3 linked regions of the Homo sapiens genome follow. The protein of the gene in region 1 interacts with the protein of each later gene in a pairwise test. Each region holds a gene or a part of one and is shown in the gene's direction. Other genes may lie near its edges.

The links. Proteins that work in one complex are often made in the same cells at the same time.
Region 2: the proteins of NOL4 (region 1) and ZNF383 interact in binary tests that used the Homo sapiens proteins (3 or more experiments, as listed by UniProt).
Region 3: the proteins of NOL4 (region 1) and PTCHD1 interact in a two-hybrid assay, tested with the Homo sapiens proteins (one study listed by BioGRID and IntAct).

The regions. Positions count from the first base shown.
Region 1 is NC_000018.10:34,221,914-34,229,652, reverse strand, and holds the start of NOL4 (nucleolar protein 4), read left to right. Parts: upstream 1-4,739; 5' UTR 4,740-6,399; coding exon 6,400-6,663; intron 6,664-7,182; exon of another isoform or gene 7,183-7,591; coding exon of another isoform or gene 7,592-7,633; intron 7,634-7,739.
Region 2 is NC_000019.10:37,213,357-37,221,213, forward strand, and holds the start of ZNF383 (zinc finger protein 383), read left to right. Parts: upstream 1-4,857; 5' UTR 4,858-4,918; exon of another isoform or gene 4,919-6,134; intron 6,135-6,242; exon of another isoform or gene 6,243-6,393; intron 6,394-7,857.
Region 3 is NC_000023.11:23,330,909-23,337,848, forward strand, and holds the start of PTCHD1 (patched domain-containing protein 1), read left to right. Parts: upstream 1-3,940; 5' UTR 3,941-3,967; coding exon 3,968-4,318; intron 4,319-6,940. UniProt on the Homo sapiens protein: Required for the development and function of the thalamic reticular nucleus (TRN), a part of the thalamus that is critical for thalamocortical transmission, generation of sleep rhythms, sensorimotor processing and attention. Can bind cholesterol in vitro.

The DNA.
Region 1 (7,739 bases):
CTTTTCCTTGACGGGATTATTAATAGACTTTTAACCCTCTGAATGCATAATAACGTTCAGAACCTCAGCTTTCAAAGTAGCAAGTACCATGCTCCATAATCTCTAATCTAGCTAAAAGGCTCAAATTCTTTTATGAACTTAACTCAGTAGACAAGTCTCTAGTCAACCCCTTCAATGGGAAATGTGATCATAGGACATCCTAAAATTTGATTCCTATTTTAGCGTGCCTCCAGGTCCTGATCTAATCCAGAATAGGTCTAACCAAAGCTTTCACAGCTTCACTTTTAAGTTTTAAATGATTTTAAGTCCATGTAAATTTGGAAATTACTAACAGTTTAGGTCTAGTCAAGGATTCATCCAAACTGCTTTGCTATTTTTCTCAGGTTTTTCCCAATACCAGTATTATATCAATAGAAGCCAACTTCTGCTGCTCAGTACATGACATTCTATTTTAGTCATAAGGTATTAGTATATACAAACTCAATATCAAAAGATGGGGGCTTTCCCTTTTTGTAGGAAATGTGGACAAAGGTGATGTCATTCATTCCTATGGCTTTAAATTCCCTGTATTTATATCTCCAATCCAGACTTTTCTCTGTAGTTCAAGCTTCTATATTCAATTCCTACATGAACAACTCTCCTGGTATTTCAAATTTAACTTCTCTGAAATTAAATTCTTTCTTCCTGCCTCTCCACCCCAACTTGCTTCTGCTCCTCCCTCAGCCTCCAACTCCCAATCTGTTCCTCCCCCAAACATTTCTCTGTAAGTCAATGGCTTCACTAGCCTCACTACTAAAGCCAGAAACCATGTAGTCGTCTTTGATTCAATCGTTTCTCTCATCTGATACATGCAGTCCATCAGTGTATTAGTTCACTAGGGCTGCTATAACAAACTACCATAGGCTGGGTGGCTTATAAACAACAGGAATTTATTTCTCACAGGTCTGGAGGCTGGAAAGTCCAAGATTAAGATGCTGGCAGATGTGATGTCTAGTGAGACTCCTCTTCATAGATGGCCATCTTTTCAGCGTCCTCACATGGAGGAAGTGGCAGAGGAGCTCTGTGAGGCCTCTTTCATGAAGGCACCAATTCCATTCATGACCAGCTCTCCTTTCATTACCTAATCAGCTCCCAAAGGTGCCACTTCCTAATACCATCACCTTGGGGGTTAGGATTTCAACATATGGATTGTGGGGTGGGGGCAGGGGGGTGGAGGAGATACACATTCAGGAAGCTCTATTCTTTCTTTAAACTGTATCTTCAACCCATCACTTCTCTCCCTCTACCTCCTCTGTTAATACTCTAATCTATCGCCGTAATAGTTCATCTAAGCTACTACTTCAACTATCACCATTTTTTCTAGCTGGTCTTCCTGCTTTCATGCTTGTCCCTTTCCAATCCTTTCTCCTCAAAGTGGCCAGTGACACTAATAAAAATGCATATCATATCATATAATTCTCCTGCCTGAGATATCTTACTGGTTTTCCACTGGACCAATAAAATATAAGCACTTATCAATAAAATGTAAGCAATGCCCTACAAGATCTGGCTGCAGAAGTCTACTCAGATCTCACGTTCTACCTTTCTCTTTCAAGCTCCAGTTGCCTTGGCCTTCTTTCTATTCCTCAAACATGCCAAGAGTTCTTTTACGTTAGGACCTTTGCGCTTTGCCTATAGTTCACCTTCCTGGCTTCACATAATTGACTCCTTTGAATCTTCAGGTCTCATGATAAATGTTACCTACTCAGAAAGATCTTCCCTAAGCTCATCAAGTCTCTCTACCTTGTCACTGTTTTCTCTTATGCTGCTATTTTTCCCCCTCCCAGCACTTACATAAAGCTCTAATTATTTATTTCTTGCTTTGTTGTCTGCTGTCCTTAGAAGAATTTATGTTCCATGAGATGGGAACCATGCATATACATCTGTCTTGCTGAGGACGTTAACCCTAGAACCTGTGAGAGTAACTGAAGCTTGGTTAATATTTGTTTAATAAAAACCACAATTATTTGAAGGAATGAAAGCTTGTTTATTCTTTGAACATGGATTTTCTGATTACAGATTCTATGTTGTTTGTACTCTAACATTTTGCTGATGAACACATAGTGTTGTGTAAATATTTGTGATTGATAATAAAGTGCAAGATTTTCTGGATTTTTAAAATGTCATTTACAAACTGACCATGAAGTTGGAAGAAATTTTACTTCTATAACAAAAATCATATTGATGATAGCCCACGTTTTGGATTATTTTAAATTAAAATATAAGTTTCACATACCTTTTTGCCTTCCTCTTCCTCTCTTTTCTTCCTCTGCCTGCCAGGCAGACAGGACCCCTGGGCCCAGATTGGGGATTGGCATTCAGAAGGGGTGAAGAAAAACATTTCGGAGAGATATGCTTTGTAGCCAGGCAATTCTGAGGAAAGTGTCCTGGGAACATACCAGGTTAAATCCCAGGCAGCCTGTTCACATGAACCATATAGCTGAGGAAGCAGCTCAGGATGACCCTGAGATGGGGCTGGTCAGACCTGACTCTAGAGAAGTTCAAAGAAGGAAAATTAGTCCAGAGTAAGTTGCTGAAGCAGATTTTAGATTTTTGTTAGGTGCCTACCTTCCTAGGTGGACAAGATATGGTTGAAGGTGTTGGCTCAGCCAGCACAACTAATAATGGGTGCAAGTACAGAGCATATTACACTTTGGGTTCCACTGAAAACAAGAGAATCTGCAGGGCTCTGAGACTTAGGACCCTTGAAATCTTTGAACCCTGTATTCCTTTCCTCCAATGCAAACAGTCTTTCAGTAGTTAATCATTTACCTTTTCTTCTTAAAAAGAATGTATTTCATATAATCTATTTCATTTTGTGGGGTTTTTGTGCTTGTATATCAAATCTAGTGAATACAAGTGGGGGTTGATGACATATTTATCTTCTGGGAGTTCTGTATGTCTAGGGTGTTCTAGTTGCTATGCATTAGGGTGTCAAGTATAGTTATAAATACAATGAACACATGTGTGTGTGGTAAAGCCCTGTCATTTCCTTAAGACGGGGGACCAACTTCAACCAAACACTACCCAGCAAAAGCCAACAAGAATGGACAAAGATTATGCCTACCTTCTTCCTTCCTTCCCTTACTCTTGTTCTCCTTCTTTCATTAATTTATTAACTCAATTTATTAAGCACTTACTGTGCACATTGTTCATTGCACAAAACAAGAAAAAAGACATAAACTTTCAAGGGTTTTCCAATTAAGATTTTATTTGACCAACAAAACATACTCATATGAAAATATAAATAAGGTAAAAGGAGCAGTGTAGTCATTATGATCTAAAACAATATTTTTCAAATTGTAGGTTGCCAGTCATTCTTTGCTGGGTCATAAAATAAATTTTTTTGGTTGGGACTATACTTTACCAAATAATAATAACAAAATCAACAGGAGAGAAAAAGGCAAATATCAGTGTATATTGCAGGTAATAAAATAGATGTTTTCATAAAATTTTTGCAGAACAAATGTATGTATGCACTACATGTCAATGTAAAGTGTATGGCTTACTACAAGACAGGGCTAAAAAATGTTTGAAAGACACAATACAGATGATTATAGAAGAAAGTTAATATTAAGTTGAATGATTAAGGAAGGTTTTTGGAGGCTGAAAGTACATAAATAAAGCTTAGAGGGGATGGGATGCCTTTTTAGATGAAAAGCTGCATAAAATAGTTCTATAATTGTGAACTATAACCATATGAGAAAGTGAATTCTATAGAACCAGCTTATTCTTGAATGACTACCCCAGGACCAATTATCTTTCCAGAAACTTCCAGGAAACACATGACCAATATCTAACTAAATTGAGCTCTGATGCCACAAAGGGAAACTTAACAGAGTTGCTCCTGTGAAGTATACCCCACTAGAAGGGTGGTTCAGGATATCTTCTGTCCAATTGCGTGTTTCAAATATTTATGTATTTAAGATATTAAGATTTTTTTAATGTGAAATATCTAAAGATTCACCTCAATAAATTGAAAGTGATATTTTTCCCCTGAGTCCCTTGTATTAGATTCACTTGTGACTTCATTGGACAGTGTCTTCTCTGAGCTCTATGGTCTAATACGTATTGAACAAAAATTCAAGGACTCAACAACTGATTTATTTTAGCATTTCTTTTTAATACAAAAGAAGGAAATAAAAGAATAAAAGCAGTCGGGGTGGCCTCTGGAGAAGGGGAGCTGTTGTTGCAGGAATCTTGCAAGTTAATGAGAATTCACCCGGGACTCAAGAGGGATGGAGAGAGGGGGAGAAAGGAGATGGGGGAATGGGGTGGGGGGATAAAAACTCTTCCTTTGCAGCTGGCCCTTTCCCTCATTTGTTGCTCCAATAAGCAGTAATTAGGTCCTGAGCTAATGGTGTCAGCTGATCTGCTGTTTTTAGGCTAGACCCAGAGGAATCTCCATGGAAACCCTGCTGGAGTCGTCCCCCCACCTGGATGCTGCGTGCTCCTTTCTGCCACCTGGCTGCCGCCGGGCCCGCTGCTACCTCCTTCTGCCTCTAACCTGCAGCCTGCAGCATGCGCACTGCCCCCGGGATCCCTAAATGGGACAATTCTGCCCGTGACGTCAGCGCCCAGCCGTCTCCACAGAAACTTTTGTCCCATTGGCCAATCAGAGAGCTTGGAAGGGGCCGGGGAGGGTGGGGGAAGGAGAGGGGAGTGGGAGGGGTGGGGGTGAGGGGAGAGGCGAGAGGTTTAGCGTGTGGAGCTGCCTGCGCTCCGCCCGGGCTGTCAGTCCCGGCTCCAGCCGCCGCGAGACCTTCCCGGAGACGCGCGCACACACAGCGCACCCCCTGCACACCGCACACCCTCGCTCCCTTGCTCACACACACGCACACACTCAGCCTGGCCGAGCAGGAGCCACTGACCATTTTGCAAGTGTCAGGACCAGCTACAGCGCGGTGGGCGCAAACATCCCGCTTTCCCTTTCCGGGATTTAGTCTGGGAGACGACGACGAGGGAAGAAGGTGGGCTCGGACGCAGCCCAGGCGCCGGGCACTGGTCGGGCCGTTTTCCTGGCAGAGCCGCTCCCCGGGACGGGCGCGGGCCTCGGGTGAGAGTAGAATAAAGAGGAGCGGCCGCAGCCGCCGCGCGAGGAGGATGGGAACTCCCCTATTTCCAGCTCTGGAAACAAATGGATGGAAGTCCTGAATGGAGCAACTGCTGACTTCATCTGCTTGGAAAAATAGTCCAGAGGAACTCATATTTGGCTACTCAGAGCAGTGGAGGGGGTGTCCATGACGTGGCAGGGGGAAAATAGACAACTGAAACCTCCCGTGTGAACTGCAAACTGTGACCAAGCAAGGGGAAAATGATCTTTCTGTATATATTTTAATTTCGTGCAAAGGTTTTCAAGCATCTGTATCCTAAACTTACTTCTATGTCTTGTTCAGCAGAAACCAGAGGAGTCCTGTCTGGGGGTCCCATCATTATTCGGGATACCCGCCGCCAGCGGCCTGCCTTCGGTTACCCACATCCCCCTGGAACGGATATCTGTTTGGGGCACTACAATCTATCCTGTAGAACTATGGCCAAATCTCCATCAATGCTTTGCTAATTTCTGGGACTTAACTCGTAGAATCTACATACAGGGCTGGAATTTATTCAAAATGCATCTGAAGAAATGACATTTTAAACCGTTTTAAAAAATATCTTGATAAAAAATTCTGTAAAACAGAATTTGATAGGTTTAAAAACATGACAGGTAAGAACTTTCTCTTTCTAGTCCCTTAACACCCGTCGTGGGGAAGGTCAAAGCAGGACCCAGGAGGAAGGAGAGATCCGGGACCCGTGTGCCCTTCGGGGCTCAAAGGCGCTGGGCGGGCGGCTGCTTTCGGGAGAGGCGCAGCCCTCACTCCTGGACCACGGGGCCAGTGGCTGGGGAAGCTTCTGGGGCGCGCGCGGGGAGGCGGCGCTGCGCTCCACCTGCCCAGCCCCGGACGCAGCCCGGGGGCGAGGCGTCTAGGGACCACCCCAATTCAATATTGGGATTTTTAATAAACCAAGGAATGGGATTTTAATTATTGAAAACCCAGCTCCTCTGGGCCAGAATGGTGTTGGGATGGTCCTGGTCACAAAATATTAAAGAGACCGACCGCTAAGGGAACAGGAAAAACGTCCGAGACAGCCGTTGCAATTACGAATGGACCAGACTTGGTAGCACGGGGCATTGATTGCTGGTGCCCAACCGGACCCTCCTCCCCTCTTCCCATCCCTTCCCCCACCCAAAGCAGGCTCCCGCTGCGGCCGGGACCTCGCATCCCTGCAACGTGGCCGGGGCTGCATTTTTCATGAGCCTAGGGTGAACAGGTGCGAAGTGCGCTGGGAGCATCCGGCCAGCGGCCGAGCGCGGGGAACATGGAGAGCGAGCGCGACATGTACCGCCAGTTCCAGGACTGGTGCCTCAGGACTTACGGGGACTCAGGCAAGACCAAGACGGTGACCCGTAAAAAATACGAACGGATCGTCCAGCTCCTCAATGGCTCCGAGTCGAGCTCCACGGACAACGCCAAATTTAAATTCTGGGTCAAATCGAAGGGCTTCCAGCTGGGCCAGCCGGACGAGGTCCGCGGGGGAGGCGGCGGCGCCAAGCAAGTGCTCTACGTGCCTGTCAAGACCACGGTGAGTGACTCGCCTTCCTCTGTTATTTGTCTGCCGGAGCAGCCCGGCGGGGAGGGAGGAAGGAGAGAGGCGGGAGAGAGGGGGAGCCGTGAGCCGCCGTTGGCTCGTGTGCCCCCTACCTTCCTCAACCCCCTCCCCAAGTCGTCCCCACTCGCATTAGCCAGGCGCGTTTTCCCCACTGTACAGTCTTTGTGGTCCTTTATTTTAAAGCGGCAGCGCACCTCCAGAGCTGGCCTCCCTCCCCGCCTCGGGTTCCCGGACCGGCTGCAGGAGCTTCCTTCCCCGGGTCGGGCGGCGGCGTCTGGCGTCCTCGGGCTGGGCCATTGTCCCATGTCCTTCTCTGGGCGCCTGGCGCGTGTCCCACCGCCGCCACCGCGCCTAAAGGCCAGGCTGGAAGCCCGGCCGCACGCTCTGAGAGCAGACGAGTCTGATCGATAGTCTACAGTGTCTCCTTATTGGCATAAAGCCCGAATGTAGCGCTAGCGGTGGATGTGGGGTTTTCCCCAGGACACTGTCAGGTTTTATCGTTAGATCGCTGCCCGGGAGGCACGGGGCAGCCCGAATGCCTCGATCACTCCCAGAGATCGTTGCCGCGACTGTTGAGATTGTAGATAAGGTCCTGGAGATTCCTCCTCCCCGCCCCCCCATTCCCTTCCTCACTTCCCTCTTCCACAAATAAAGCCGCAGCTAGAAGATGAACAACAAAGAAAGATGGGTTTAGGCGCTATCGAATGGTGTGTGTATTTGTTCCTTTTTCTGGGGTGGCTCTAGTCTCATGGCCACAAAGCTCTAGCCCAGGCGCCGCGAGGCACTGGCATTGAGAGCCCAATGCATCTCAGCCTCACGCTGCAGAAGCCAGTGGGGCTGGGGAGCCGCAGCAGCGTCGATTTTCTTCACAAGAAGATGGGAACTGTGGGCTACAAGTAGGATGGCAGATCTGATGCAGGAGACCTTTCTGCATCATGCCACGGTGGGTACTCGCCTGGAGTAGGGATGGGGGAGGCTATCTGGCATCCTTTGTATTTTTGCCTCGCTTTGGGGTTTCTTGAGCATTTCTTCCTTTCCCCCCTCCTGTA
Region 2 (7,857 bases), on another chromosome or scaffold:
TTCCTATCTTTTCTTTTTTTAGTGAATATAAACAAATGCTTATATCTAATCTAATTTCCTTTTCTTTTTTAGACGAACTATATGTTACACTGTTCTATACTTTCCATTTTTTATATATTCCAGAGTTAATGTCATTCCGTAGAGAGCTTCGTTTTTTTTTTTTTCTGCTGTGTGTGTATGGGCTGCATAAAACTTTATGATGTGACTGTGGTGATTTGAGCTGCTACCTTTATCAAATACTAAGCATCTATGTGGATGTTAATTTCTTTTTTTTTTGAGATGAAGTCTCACTCTGTCACCAGGCTGTAGCGCAGTGGCACAATCTCAGCTCACTGCAACCTCTGCCTCCCAGGTTCAAGCGATTCTCCTGCCTCAGCCTCCCGAGTAGCTGGGACTACAGGCGCGTGCCACCACACCCAGCTAATTTTTGTATTTTTAGTAGAGACGGGGTTTCATCATGTTGGCCAGGATGGTCTCGATCTCTTCACCTCATGATTCACCCGCCTTGGCCTCCCAAAGTGCTGGGATTACAGGTGTGAGCCACCGTGCCTGGCCGGGATGTTAATTTCTTTCTTTCTTTCTTTTTTTGAGACGGAGTTTTGCTCCTGTTGCCCAGGCTGGAGTGCAGTGGCTTAATCTCGGCTCACTGCAACCTCCGCCTCCCAGGTTCAAGCAATTCTCCTGCCTCAGCCTCCTGAGTAGCTGGGATGACAGGCGCATGCCACCATGCCCAGCTTATTTTTTGTATTTTTAGTAGAGATGGGGTTTCATCATGTTGGCCAGGCTGGTCTCGAACTCCTGACCTCAGGTGATCCACCCACCTCGGCCACCCAAAGGGCTGGGCGTGAGCCACCGCGCCCGGCCATGGATGTTTATTTCTCCATTTCCCATCCTCCTCCCTTTGTCTGTCTCTCTAACCACACACAAATAGCACACTGTTTTAAGTATAGAGGCTTTATCATGTACCTCATATAACTTCATGTAACTTCAATTCTACTTTCTGTCTCTATGAATACACCTATTCTAGGCACCTCATATAAGTGGATTCATACAATATTTGTCCTTTTGGTCTGGCTTATCTCACTCCGCATAGTGTTGAAAAAGAAAATAAATGGCTTTTATCTGAGGAATGCAAGCCTTCTTTATGTGATCAAGCCCAGAGAGGGGTTGGGATGACACAGCTGTTGTGGTGGCTCATGCCTGTAATCCCAGCACTTTGGGAGGCCTCGGTGGGAGGATTACTTGAGGCCCGGAGTTTGAAACTAGACTGGGCAACATAACTAAACCCTCTCTCTATAAATTTTTTTTTCAATTAGCCAGGTGTGGTGGTGTACACCAATAGTCCCAGCTACTCAGAAGGCCTAGGCGGAAGGATGCTTAAGTCCAGGAGTATGAGGCTGCAGTGAGCTGTGATCATACCTCTGCATTCCAGCCTGGGAGACAGAGCAAGACCTTGTCTCTAAAAAAAAAAAAAAAAAAAAAAAATGCTGGGTGCAGTGGCTCACACCTGTAATCCCAGTACTTCGGGAGGCCAAGGCAGGCAGATCACTTGAGGTCAGGAGTTCAAGACCAGCCTAGCCAACATGATGAAACCCTGTCTCTACTTAAAAAAAAAAAAAAAAAAAAAAAAAAAAAGGAAAGAAAAATTAGCCGGGCATGGTGGTGGGTGCCTGTAATCTCAGCTACTAGGGAGGCTGAGGCAGGAGAATCACTTGAACCCAGGAGGCAGACGTTGCAGTGAGCCGAGATCCCACCACTGCACTCCAGCTTGGGCAACAGAGGGAGACCCCATCTCAAAATAAATAAATAAAAATTAAAAAAATAAATTAAAAATTAAAAAAAAGAAATGAGTTTTTTCTGCTCTAAAATCAAAAGTTTGCAAGCTGCATTCCTTTCTGGAGGCTCTGGAGAATTTGTTTTTTTTCATTTTCCAAGTTGGAGAAGCTGCCTGCATTCCTCAGCTCATGGGCTCCTTTCATCTTTACACCCAATAATGGCTGGTCGTGTGTTTCTCACAGCACACAATTCCAACACTGACTTTATGCCTTCTTCCTCATTTCAGACCCCATGTGATTACATTGGGTCTAACTGGACAATCCAGTATAATTCCCCTATGTTAAGGTCAGCCGATTAGCAACTTTAATTCTACCTGTTAATTTAATTCCACTTGCCATGTAACATAGCATATTCACAAGTCCCAGGAACTAGCATGTGGGTATTTTGGGGGGAACATTATCCTGCCTACTTTAGATGTTGAGGTCATTCAAGAGGAAAATGATAGTTTTGTTAACATGTGATGTTAGAACAACTGAATTTCCATCTGGAAAATAATAACTTTGAACATTACCTCACATACACAAAAACTAACTTCAAGTGGATGATAGACCAAAAATAAAAACTAAAACTATACAACCTTTAGAATAAAACATAGGAGAAATTCTTCACAACACTAGAGGAGTCAAAGATTGTTAGAAAGACCAGAAAGCATGAAGCACATTTTAAAGATGAGAAATTGGATTTCATCAGAAGTAAAAACTGCTTTTTGAAAGACATCATGAAGAAACTGAGGGCTGGGCACAGTGACTCACACCTGTAATAACACAGTGAGACCCCATCTCCACAAAACACAAGAAAATTAGTTGGGGGTGGTGGTGCACACCTGCAGTCCCAGCTACTCAGGAGGATCGACTAAACCCAGGAGGTCAAGGCTGTGGTGAGCTATGTTAACACCACTGCACTCCAGACTAGGCAACAGAGCAAGACCCTGTCTCAAAAAAAAAAAAAAAAAAAAACTGAGAAGGTAAGCCCCAGGCAGGGAGAGAATATTTGCAATTTGCAATATGTATATTTGGCAAAGGACTTTTACCCAAACATATAAAGAATTGTTACAACTCAATAATAACCAATTTTAAAATAAGAAAATTTTATTTATTTATTTATTTATTATTATTTTTTGAGATGCAGTTTTGCTCTTGTTGCCCTAGCTGGAGTGCAACAGTGTGATCTCAGCTCACAGCAACCTCTGCCTCCCGGGTTCAAGTGATTCTCCTGCAGGGATTACAGGCATGCACCGCCACGCCTGGCCAATTTCGTATTTTTAGTAGAGACGGTGTTTCTCCACGTTGGTCAGGGTGGTCTCGAACTCCCAACCTCAGGTGATCTGCCCGCCTCAGCCTCCCAAAGTGCTAGGATTACAGGCGTGAGCCACTGCGCCCAGCCGAATATTTTCAATAGATGTCACAAAAGAAGATAAAAGAATGGCAAATAAGTATATGAAAGTATGCTAAGTTCATTGACATCAGGAAATGCAAATTAAAAACATAATTTGATACTACTGCTCATTCCTTAGAATAGTCAATAGATGCCTGATGTGGGGTTTGGGAGGTGGGGATTGACTTAACAATGTGGGGGGCAGAGGGCGGTGAATAAAAATATTCTATATCCGCCGGGCGCGGTGGCTCACGCTTGTAATCTCAGCACTTTGGGAGGCCGAGGCGAGCGGATCACGAAGTCAGAAGTTCGAGGTCGGGAGTTCGAGACCAGCCTGTGAGCTCGAACCCTGTCTCTACTAAAAATACAAAAATTAGCCAGGCATGGTGGCGGGCACCTGTAATACCAGCTACTCGGAAGGCTGAGGCAGGAGAATCGCTTGAACCCGGGAGGCGGAACTTGCAGTGAGCCGAGATCTCGCCACTGCAGTCCAGCCTGGGTGACAGCTAGACTCCAACTCAAAAAAAAAAAAAAAAAAATTCTATATCCAGTAACACTAAGGATAAATGCTTGAGGGGATAGACACCCTATTTTACATGATATGATTCTTACGCATTGCATGCCTGTATCAAAACATCTCATGTACCCCATATACAACTACTATGTACCCACAAAAATTTAACTAAAATGCTTAAAAATTTTTTAATTTTAAAAAATATTCTATATCCTGATTACGATGGTGGTGACAAGGGTTTAGACATGCGTTGAAGCTTACCGAACAGTTCACTTAAAATGAGTGCATTTTATTGTATCTAAATTATTCTTCAGTAAAGTTGATTTTTAAAAAACATGCACACAAATATAATTTACAAACTATAACATTAGCTCGTTTATGGTGTACCATTCAGTCACTTTTAGTGTATTCAGAGTTGTGCAAACATCATTATCTAATTCAAGAAGCTTTGCATTACCCCAAAAATGAACCCTTTAGCTATTACCAATCACTCACAGTTCCCCCTAATCCTGCTAGTCCTAAAAAACTCTAACTTACTCCTTTTCCGTAGATTTGACTATTTTAAATATTTCCTATAAATGCAGTCATACAGTATGTGGCTTATCCACGGATGAAGGCAAAAATGACGATTTAGTCAGTCTAGCATTCTCAGAGAGCGTTATAACGCCTAGTACAGTCCGGGGTCCTGGGTGCGTTCTGCACTGAGTCGGCTTGGGGCAGGAAGTCATTTAAGCGACCTCCTTCCACTTGCCCCAGCGCCTCACCCCTTCCTGCTCTAGACTACAGTTCCCAAAAATCCTTGCGGCTCTAGTCAACATCTGGCCCGAAGCTGGCGACCTTTTCCTGTTTCTCAGGGAACTCCCTGGGGTTGGCCGGTACCATGGAGGAAGATTGTCTTCAGCGTGCAGGGCCAGCGTCCTACGGCAGTTTCACTCTGAGCCTGTGTCTGGATCACGGAGACGCGGGGTAGCGGTTCGGAGTGCGGAGCAGGGATGTCCCCGAGCTGTGCAGCTGCAAGAACCCGAAAAAACAGGCGCCATCTTCTCGGCGCGGTCCTACTCCGGACTGTATTTCCCAGAGGCCCCCGCGAGTCCAGGGCAGCCCCTTCATTTGCCTGCTGGACCCTCCGCCTCAAGGGTAGGGGAAGTGCGCGGTGAGCGGCCTGGGTCTTGCAGGCTCGGCTGGGGCCCGCAGGTACGTGCATGGGAGTTTGAAGGGACTGACCAGGCTGGTCTGGAGTGTTGGGCATGTATGAGTGTGTCGGGCATGTATGAGTTGGTCGGGCTGATAGAGGGGGTGGTGGGGAGGCGGGCGCGAGGCGTGGGCTTCCGTGTGTGAGTGTGACCTTATGTGACTGTGCCTCTCTGTGTGCGCGGGTGTGATTGTATATCCTCGTTGTAGTTGTGTAATTGTAACAATGTAAGGCTGTATGTGTAGGTATGACTGTGTCCCGTGTTGGGACTGTGATTGTGTGTGGCTGTGTAACTTTGCGTGACATTTGTGGAGGGTGTTTGTGTGGAGAGAATCTGATGAGGCTGTGACTGTGTGTTAGTCTGAGGGGTGTGTGTAATTGTGTTTGTATGACTGTTAGCAGCACTTAAGTGTACTGGATGCCTTACTGAGTAAATCTACTACCCAGAAATAACCCAGTAACGTGAGAATGTGAGAGTGTGACCATGTAACTTTATGTAGCACTGTGTCTGCGGTTGGAAAGTGCGTGTAATCGTGCCGGGGTGATATGTGTGTCCTAGTGGTCATTGTGTTATTTTGAATGTGTGATTGTGTGTAGTGCTCAATAGGGGTCCTGGGGAGGGGGGAACTGTAACTTTGTGTGGCTCAGTAGTGCGTGTGGTATTGTGACTATCTGTAGCACTCTGGTTCTGAATGGTGCTATGTTTGAGGGGTCTGTAAATATGCTAGTGTAACTTATCCTCAAGGTAGATGTGGGACAATGATTGTGTGACCATATATAGTGTTATTGTTTGGGTGAGGCGTGCCTGTGGAGGTCTATGTGGGTCCCCATGGTGGCTGGGTGACTGCAGCATTGGGTAGGGGGTGCTTGTGACTGTCTTTGTGACTCCAGCTCTCCCTGTGAGGTCAGGACAGATTCTCGAGAGGAGAGACCTCACCCCTCTGATACCAAGAATGCTCATGACAGCCTACACTTCTCTGTTTTTGTTTTGTTTTGTTTTAAGGCGGAGTTTCGCTGTTGTTGCCCAGGCTGGAGTGCAATGGCGCAATCTCGGCTCACCGCAACCTCCGCCTCCCCGGTTCAAGCAATTCTCCTGCCTCAGCCTTCCTAGTAGCTGGGATTACAGGCGTGTGTCACCACGCCCTGCTAATTTTGTATTTTCAGTAGAGACGGGGTTTCTCCGTGTTGGTCAGGCTGGTCTCGACCTCCCCACCTCAGGTGATCCGCCTGCCTTGGCCTCCTAAAGTGCTGGGATTACAGGCGTGAGCCACCACGCCGGGCCGCCTACACTTCTCTGACCTCCCCCATCCCTTCTTCTCTCCATAGATAGTAGCTGTAGATCCAAAATGACCTCTGATCTGCTCAGTCTGGGCCACAAGAAAGGCCTGGCATCTCATCATTCCTTTCTTCTTCAGCTCTGCTCTCGTCAAGAGAGTTACCCAGAGGAAGAATGGCTGTTGACCAAACCAAATACAAGGTGCATTGGGTTTCCTTTTTGCTTCTCTTCTCTGGATAGTCGTGGTTAACATAGAGTCAACAAGTGACCTGGTTCTTACAAGTTTCTATTCAAGAAAATGATGAGAAGCCTTGGAGTGGACTCAGAGATCCCAGTAGTCTGTTACTTCTTTCTACAAAATGTTCACTTATTAATTTAGAAAATAGAACAGTTTTCCCAGTGTACTAAAGTTTTGTTTTTTTAAACACACACACACTCTCCCCTCCTCTGTCTCACACACACCCACCCACACAATTCCAAAGAATTTAGAAAATAGGGAGTTACAAACAGCAAATCTACTACCCAGAAATAACCCAGTAATATTTTGATCTATTTCCTTCTAGTAAGTTTCCTATGCACATATACATTGTTTTCAAGATTGGAATCTTATGACATTTACCATTTCATATCTTGTATTTTCACTAAAAATTATGTATGGTTCTTATATTTGGTTTTCTTTTCTTTTCTTTTTTTTTCTTGAGACGGAGTCTCGCTCTGTTGCCCAGGCTGGAGTGCAGAGGCGCGTTCTCAGCGCACCCAGGCTGGAGTGCAATGGCTAGATCTCAGCTCACTGCAACCTCCCGCCTCCCGAGTTCAAGCAATTCTCCCGCTCCAGCCTCCTGAGTAGCTGTGATTACAGGCACCTGCCATCATGCCTGGCTAATTTTTATATTTTTGTAGAGATGGAGTTTCACTATGTTGGCCAGGCTGTTCTTGAACTCCTGACCTCAGGTGAGGCCTCCCAAAGTGCTGGGTTTACAGGTGTGAGCCACTGCTCCTGGCCTATATTTGTTTTTTTTTTTGTTGTTGTTTAATCCCTTTATATTACGTAATACAGAAAAATAGTTAAAATATAGATGTATAGTTTAAGAAGTAATTATAAAGAGACCCTCAGCATAACAAAAACTTGCTTCAGCAGTCCAGAAAAGCCCGCTAGTCCTTTCCCCAGAATAAACTTATCCTACCTCCCTCTTTAGGCAACACTTATCCTGACTTTGATAATCGTTATTTTCTTCTTGACTTTTTAAAAAAAGTTTTGTTTTGTTTTGTTTTTTACCACATATCTGCTTATCCCTAAACAATATAGTTTAGTTTTGCCTTTTTAACACTATATAAATTAAATTGTACTGTATGATGTTGTTTTGAGTCTTGCCTTTCTTATAAAATACTATATTTGTTAGCCTCACTCTCGCTGCTATACATAGCTGCAGTTCAGACGTTGGTTATTTCCTGTATGACAGGGCTGCTGTGAAAATGTTTTTACAAGTATACCAGCATATATGCATACCTTTCCAGGATATAAGTGTATGAAGGAATTGCTGGGCCATACAGTATGTTTTGCATCTTTAAATTTCCTAGATAATGCTGAACTGATCTACAATATAGTTTTATAAATTAAATTCCTACCGACAGCTTATAAACATTATAGTCATCTTGTATTCTAAC
Region 3 (6,940 bases), on another chromosome or scaffold:
AATGCTTTTCTTTTCACACTTATGTATAGAATAAGATTATAACAAATATCATTTATTATATGTCTGTGATATTTCAGGCACTGTTTTAAGTGTGTTAATCTATTTAATCCTCATAGCAATTCTATGGGGTTGGTACTATTGTTATTCCCATTTTTCAGAAGAGAAAAATTGTGCCATAAAAAAGTAAAGTTACCCACTGCATTTTAGCTAATAAATAGTGGAGCAAGGATTCAACTCAGTGGCTACAGAACCAAAAGCCTCAACTTCTACATTATATTGCCTATGTGTACAATAAATGATCGACAAAGGTTGAAAGGTAGTGTGAGTACACCGATACAGGTGTTTTTGTTTCCTTCTTTTTCTTGTTCTTACTTTCCAAATTGTCTAAAATTAATATGTATTAATTTTAAATCAGAAAAGGTAACAATTTATTAACGTACTGGTGAAAGCTCTGATCACAAAGTCATTGGCCCAAATGCAAACCCAAGTCGTTGGTGGAGGCAATGCTCCCCAGAACTTCTACAAAAAGAGAAGAAAAATCGGGGGGAGGCAACACCCTTCCTGCACTCTTACGTGTGGGCTCTCTTTCTCTCTCGCCCCTCTCTCTCGCCCCTCTCTCTCTCCCCTCTCTTTCGCCTCTCTCTTCCCCCTCTCTCTCCTCTCTCTTTCCTCTCTCCTCACTCTCACTCTCTCTGCTGCTCCAATTCAATTTAGACAACACTAACGGGATTGCCTGCAGTAAAAGGTGGCCCAAGGTCCACACTTAGTTGGTTCTGTCTCCAAATTGAAACATACAGGTTAGAAGCTCCTCCAAATATACATAAGGACAGTTAGGAATAGAGTTGGGAGGACTAGAAACAAATGCCTTGGTCCCAAAGGAAAGGCCTTTTCTGTGTGGGAGGACAACACTCTCGCCCTGGCCAGCTGAGCAATGCAGTTTCTCCCGCTCTAAGATTCAGCCCAGGCACTGAGGGAGGGCACTCTGTTCTTCAGCCCTTGTGAGGGCTGACATTAAAAGGCCGGAAATTCTAGGGACGAGGGCGAACCGAGGTTGGAAGGGAGCCAATCGGAGGGTCAAAGACTTCAGAATGAAAACAGCTTCGCCAAAATGTTAAAGGCACCTAAGCAGACCTGTCGGCTGGTTTTCCTTCTCTTACTTTTATCCCTGCGCTGGCATCGGGGCACATGAAACAGCTCTGTTCATTCCCTGTGCAGCGACCGATTTTAGGCCTCCTGAGAAGTGCCCACCCACTAGCTGCCGCTGGCTCAGTCGCAAAGAGCTGGGTTCGCAGTATTTCCCACCGCCACCCCTCCTCCCCGCCCTTCCATCTTTCCGTCTGCCCGGGCTGAGAGCCACGCAGGGCATCCACCCTGTCATTTAGCACCTCGGCTACGCAATGGTGGGTGGTTTCCCAAAGCGCGTGCCCTCGCAGCCACTCGCGCTCGCCTCGCCGCTTGCAGGGGCACAAGTCAATGAGGCTTTTCCCTCCGCGATCATGGTGAATCAGCAAAGCGCTGCAGAGCAGCGGCACCTCCACGAGCAGAAATTAAGATGCTGGGGGAACGGCACGAGTGGAGTGTGGCAGGGGAATTTCTAGCCCCTTCCAATGTGTCCCTCCCAGGGACGGCGATACTGGGGGAGGGGAGTCAGCTGGAAGCTGCTGGACTTAGGCGTCGCGGGGAGCCTCTGGAAACAGAGCAGTGTAGGGAATAACGAAGATGAGCACAGAAAGTGGACGAGAAATGGGTGGAAGGATCTAGGGAGCACAAGCAGAGCAGGGCAGGTGCGCCCCCGGGGTGGGCAGCGCAGCAGGAGCAGGTGTTGCTGAGGAAAGGTAGGAAGGAAGTCCGGTATGGGGGAAGGGAGGAGATCATCAAATAAGGAGGATTTCCCAAACCGCGACTTGCTGTTTCCAACGTGCAAGTTCCCAAGTTCAGTTTGAGAAGTGAAGGGCCGCTAGGTGTAGGGGAGTCTGGAATGGGAACGTTAGGGAAATGCCTCCCCGAGGCGCATTCTCCTACCCATTCTCCTCTTTCTTCCCCCCCCCCCACTCCCCTTCCTCTTCCTGTCCCTATTCGTCTTCCTTCAGCTTTGATTAATATGCATGTCTATGCTCCGTAGTGCGGGCCACCGCCTCCCGTTCGACCCCTGGCACTGGGAGACTGAGCTGTAGCGACCAAAGGCTTGGGATGGGGAGGCTGAGCGCTCAGAGCGCGGAGTCTGAGGACCCCTCGCCGCGCCCTGTATCCCACCCCCCTGGCTGGAGAGAGCGCCTCAGTGACCCAGACTCCGAGATCCCGCTCGGTCTGCGTTGCAGTGGACAGACCCAGGAGCTTGGAGCGCGAAATGAAACGCGCTAAATTGTACCTGTGCGTGGCCGTTCCCGCCGCCGCCGCAGGTCTATCCCGGGGCCGAAGCCGGCGCCCGCCTTCTCGGGGAATTCTCCGGAGGGGGAGTGCGAGGGGAACCACGGTGACTGCCTGCTAGCTCACGGCTGGCGCGCACACGCACACGCCCAACTTTGCCAAGCCGTCGGCGCCCCGCGGGCTCCCCCGCGCCCCCTGCGGCTCAACACGCTCGGAGACCTGTATCTCTCCTGCTCTGAGATAAGGTTCCCTCCACTCTCACACCTTCGCATGTAGGGGAGGAGAGGGCGGAGTGAGGCAGAGAAGGGGGTTAATGCTACTGACTCCCTGGCCAGCCTTTCTCAAACACTCTACGCCCGCAGGGGCGCCCGCGCCAGCCACGCCGCACCAGGTCCCCCAGACCTGCTGGTGACGACAGAGAGAGGAGGAGGAAGAGAAGGCAGGGCGAAGAACCGGGAGCCGGGGAGCCCCGGAGCTCGGGAGCCCGGGAGCCCAGGCGACGGACAGTTCCATCGACTGACCGTCATTATCAGCACTTTTATTACTAAAGGACTGGGTGGGAGGTTGGGGGGTGTGCAACAGAGCTGGCCAGCCCCAATCCACTCTGGAGCGACCCTAAATTAGAGCCACAGAGAAAGATTCTCCACGGATACCTTTTGAGTGGACGTGCTCCAGACACACACCCGGACCCCGTGGTCCCGCCGAAGCTGCAGTGTTGGGGGTATTTTAAACGGTTCTTATTTGGAAGGAGGCGTGATTTCCACGTTCGAGCGTCTTCGCTCCCCACCCCCTCTCGGCACCAGCCAGTGCGCGCCACCACCTGAGCCTGGCGAGAGCCGGGACGCACGCAGTCTTCAGCCTGCTCCTTTAAGCCTCTGGAGAGACTCGGCTCTGAGCGGGTCCGCCCGACACCCGCCCCCTCCCCCCACTCCTGAGAACTCTTTACTTTTTGTTTGGAAAATCGGGGCCATTTCTTTATTTATCTCTGGGTCTTCCCGGAGGAGGGCAGAGAAGGGGAGAGCGAGCTTGGCGGGCCGGACCGGGGGAGGGGAGCGAAGGGAGGGGAGGGGACTGGGTGTAGCCTGGAATTCTCCGTCCTCGTGTTCCTGGGCGGGCGCGCAGAGTCTCCTGGCGATAGCGCCGTCGCCGCTCCCCGCGCCACCCCGTCGTTGGCCTTGGGGGTCGGGTGAGTGGGGTCATGACGAGCCGCGGGGGCTGCCCCGGGCCCCGCCCGCGCTGAGAGGGGACGCGGCCGCGCGGCGCGGAGCCCCCCTGGCGGGGAGGCCGCGGGGGGTGGGGAGGGCGCACGCGGTAGGGCGGAGTGGGGGCGGCGCAGAGGCCGCCAAGCTGGGGGGCTCTCCGGGAGGGCGCGGCCGCGGGCAGGAGGGCGTGTCTCCGGCTCGAGGGGACCCTCCCGAGGCGCGGCGCGGGACTCCCCGATGGTGGTGCCGCGGCTCCGGGAGAGCTCAGGGTCTCGCCGCCGCCGCCGTCGCCGCCGCCGCGGGCGCCGCTGCCGCCGCCGCCGCCGCCGCCGCCGCCGCCGCCCGAACCCGCGCCGAGCGTGCGCCTCGCCCTCCTCCCGCGCCCGCTCTGCTCTAGGATGCTGCGGCAGGTTCTGCACAGGGGCTTGAGGACGTGTTTCTCCCGGCTCGGCCACTTCATTGCCAGTCACCCTGTCTTCTTCGCCTCGGCGCCGGTGCTCATCTCCATCCTGCTCGGCGCCAGCTTCAGCCGCTACCAGGTCGAGGAGAGCGTGGAGCACCTGCTGGCGCCCCAGCACAGCCTGGCCAAGATCGAGCGCAACCTCGTTAACAGCCTCTTCCCGGTCAACCGCTCCAAGCACCGTCTCTACTCGGACCTGCAGACCCCCGGGCGCTACGGCCGGGTCATCGTCACCTCCTTCCAGAAAGCCAACATGCTGGACCAGCATCACACCGACCTGATCTTAAAGGTGAGAGGGGACGGGTGCGGGCAGACTCCGCCAGCGCCGCGGCCGCGGTCGGGCTGGCTCTGCGCTGGGGTCCCGGCTGAGAGCGCCACCTCTCCTAGCCCAGGCAGCTGCCGCAGGGACTCTCCTGCACCGCGCGCCCCAGGGCGGCCGACTGGAGCCTCCCAGCCTCCTGGACAAGGAGCGTCGGGGTCCGGGTCCGGCCCTGCCCGCGTCGCCTCTACCGCCACCCCGCAGCTGCTGCAACAGTTGGGGCGGCGGCGGCCACAGTGCTGTGGTCGGTGCGCTTGTTTTGGTCGCAGTGGGCTTGGGGGTGGGGAGGCTTTGGGGTAACTGGGCCAGCAAGGAGCAGAACGAGAGAAGACATTCTGGAAAGTCCTACTACTTGAGAACAAAATACTATGCTTGGAGGGGATTCCGAGATACCCCTCCCTGTCCTCAGTTTTGTTTCTCCCTTTTTCTGGCCCCCCGGAGTGTTTGGGGAACGGTTGTTGGTGTGGGATGTTGGGAAAGGACAAAAGAATGTGAGGCGGGATGGTGATGAAGATGCCTCCCACCCACCCAGAAAGAAGTGTGGTCTCTGGCGAGGACAGGGGGCTGCCCTGCTGCTCTCTTCTCCGGAGCGAGGTAGCCATCTCTATCTTCTAGGGTATGAAATTATGTTTGTAATTCGCAGTTCCTTCGTCTTTCACAGTAGCTCCTCAAGAAATGCCAAAACTTTGGGAAAAGAGGGAACCGATCAATCCACTTTTATTTGGGTGCATCTGAGCATGGGGGTGAGGGGCAGAGCCCGAAGGGTGAGAACAGAAGCCAGGCTGTGTGACCCCGAGAAGAGCACAGGAAACCGAGCAGCTGGTTAGAGGGTGACACTCGCAGAAACCGGTTGTGCCATCAGCTTGAGGTGGGAATTTGATGTGGAAAGTGAGGTTAATGGTGGTAACTTTCAGGAACTTCCTAAGAAAAGCAGAGGAGTGAGGACTAGAGATGGAAAAGTGGAGACCTCGGGAGAGAAAAGTAAAAATAGGTGAGAATGTTCCATCTGAATCCCTGATGGGGACTGTGGGGCTTGTTTACTTAAGGTTCTCCTTTGGGGAGGGCAGACAAGAACCAGTCCCAGCTGGGACTCTGGTGCAGAGGGATGGAAGGTGATCGTTTTGTGTGAGTCTCTAGTCCAGATCTGGTACTAGAGGCTGGTTAGATTTCTAGTCTACTTATCCCAAGGGGAGTCTGCCGGGAAACCTGGGGAACTCTTTCCTCTTCTTTTCCTCTACAGGTAATAGTTTATCCCTAGAGACAAGCTAATTTTCATTATTTTCCTATGTCCGTTTGTTGACATGTTATCAATTAGCAATTAGTAATGAGGGGAATCTGACTAGGGGCTCAATGGAATTAGGATCTTCCCACATGGAGTGGCTCATGATATTTTTAATGGCACACATCACACATTTACTCATCACAGAACCTTAATAACATTAATCCCGAGATGTTTGTTTTTCTCATGATTAGACTTCCAGCATCAAAGTGGTTTTCTTTTTTCTCTCAATACTTTAGTGACTATATTTTGGGACACAGATAAATACTGCTCCAAAAGCTTTCCCACGAAAACACATAGTAGATTCATCATGGGCATAAGGAAACTGTAATTTAACCAGTTCTGACAGTTGGAAATGCCCCGTCTTTTGATTGATGATCTACTAAATGATATTTCTCTTTTTGTGTTTTTTCAAGGTGACGTTTCCATTGCCTTTCCCCCCCCACCCACAAACCATCACACCACTGTGACAGGCAGTCACCAGTTACAGTCACTCTCAAGGTTAATGAGACATCAACAAGCATTATCAGATCTCTTTTCAACTGGATTACTTCTTCCCTATTTGATTTTGATCAGTTCAGGACAGAAAACAGTGCTATAGGAGAAGGTTGAGACTGGAGAGACGGAGGCTTGGTTTGCCTCCATATCTAAAGGGCAACTTTAAAGGACAATGGTCAAAAATCAGTGGATTGTTTTAAGAACTGGGATGGTTTTTCATCTTCTAGGTGTCTGAGTAAAATCAAAACCAAGCCTAGCAGTGGTCCGAACTTATTTCTAGCTGATGACTCTCTGGTCAAATGAGTTCATACAGCTTATAAAAATCCAGACTTACGGAACCAAGGAAATAACTGTCTTCAATTTTAAATTATATGTTTAATTTTTTCTTTCTGCATCCAGCCCCTACTTTTGGTAGATATGGAGCCAGGGGACAGGAAGATGGACCTTCATTAGTCATGGTAATGTAAAGTGTGGGAGTGAGCACTTTTTTTTTTTTAATTTTTTTCATTTAGAGACATGATGACTTGTCCTTTAGGAAAGGTGTCAGGAGTGAAAGAATCACTGTTATTGTTGTTACTAGTGTTATTCTGATGCTTCGTTACTGGCATCAAGGATAGCATTGACAGTTAACACTACACAACACCCAACAGTCCCTGCCCCCTGCCGGTTTTATGGCGTCACATTTGAAATGAAGTGAAGTGGACAGAGCATGAGCAGGTCTGAGGCTTTTTCATACCCCAGTACAGAACTGAGGAGGTGACTTGTAGGGCTGTGTAGGGTGTTGCTTCAAGCATGAAGAGTAGACCCATTCTCTC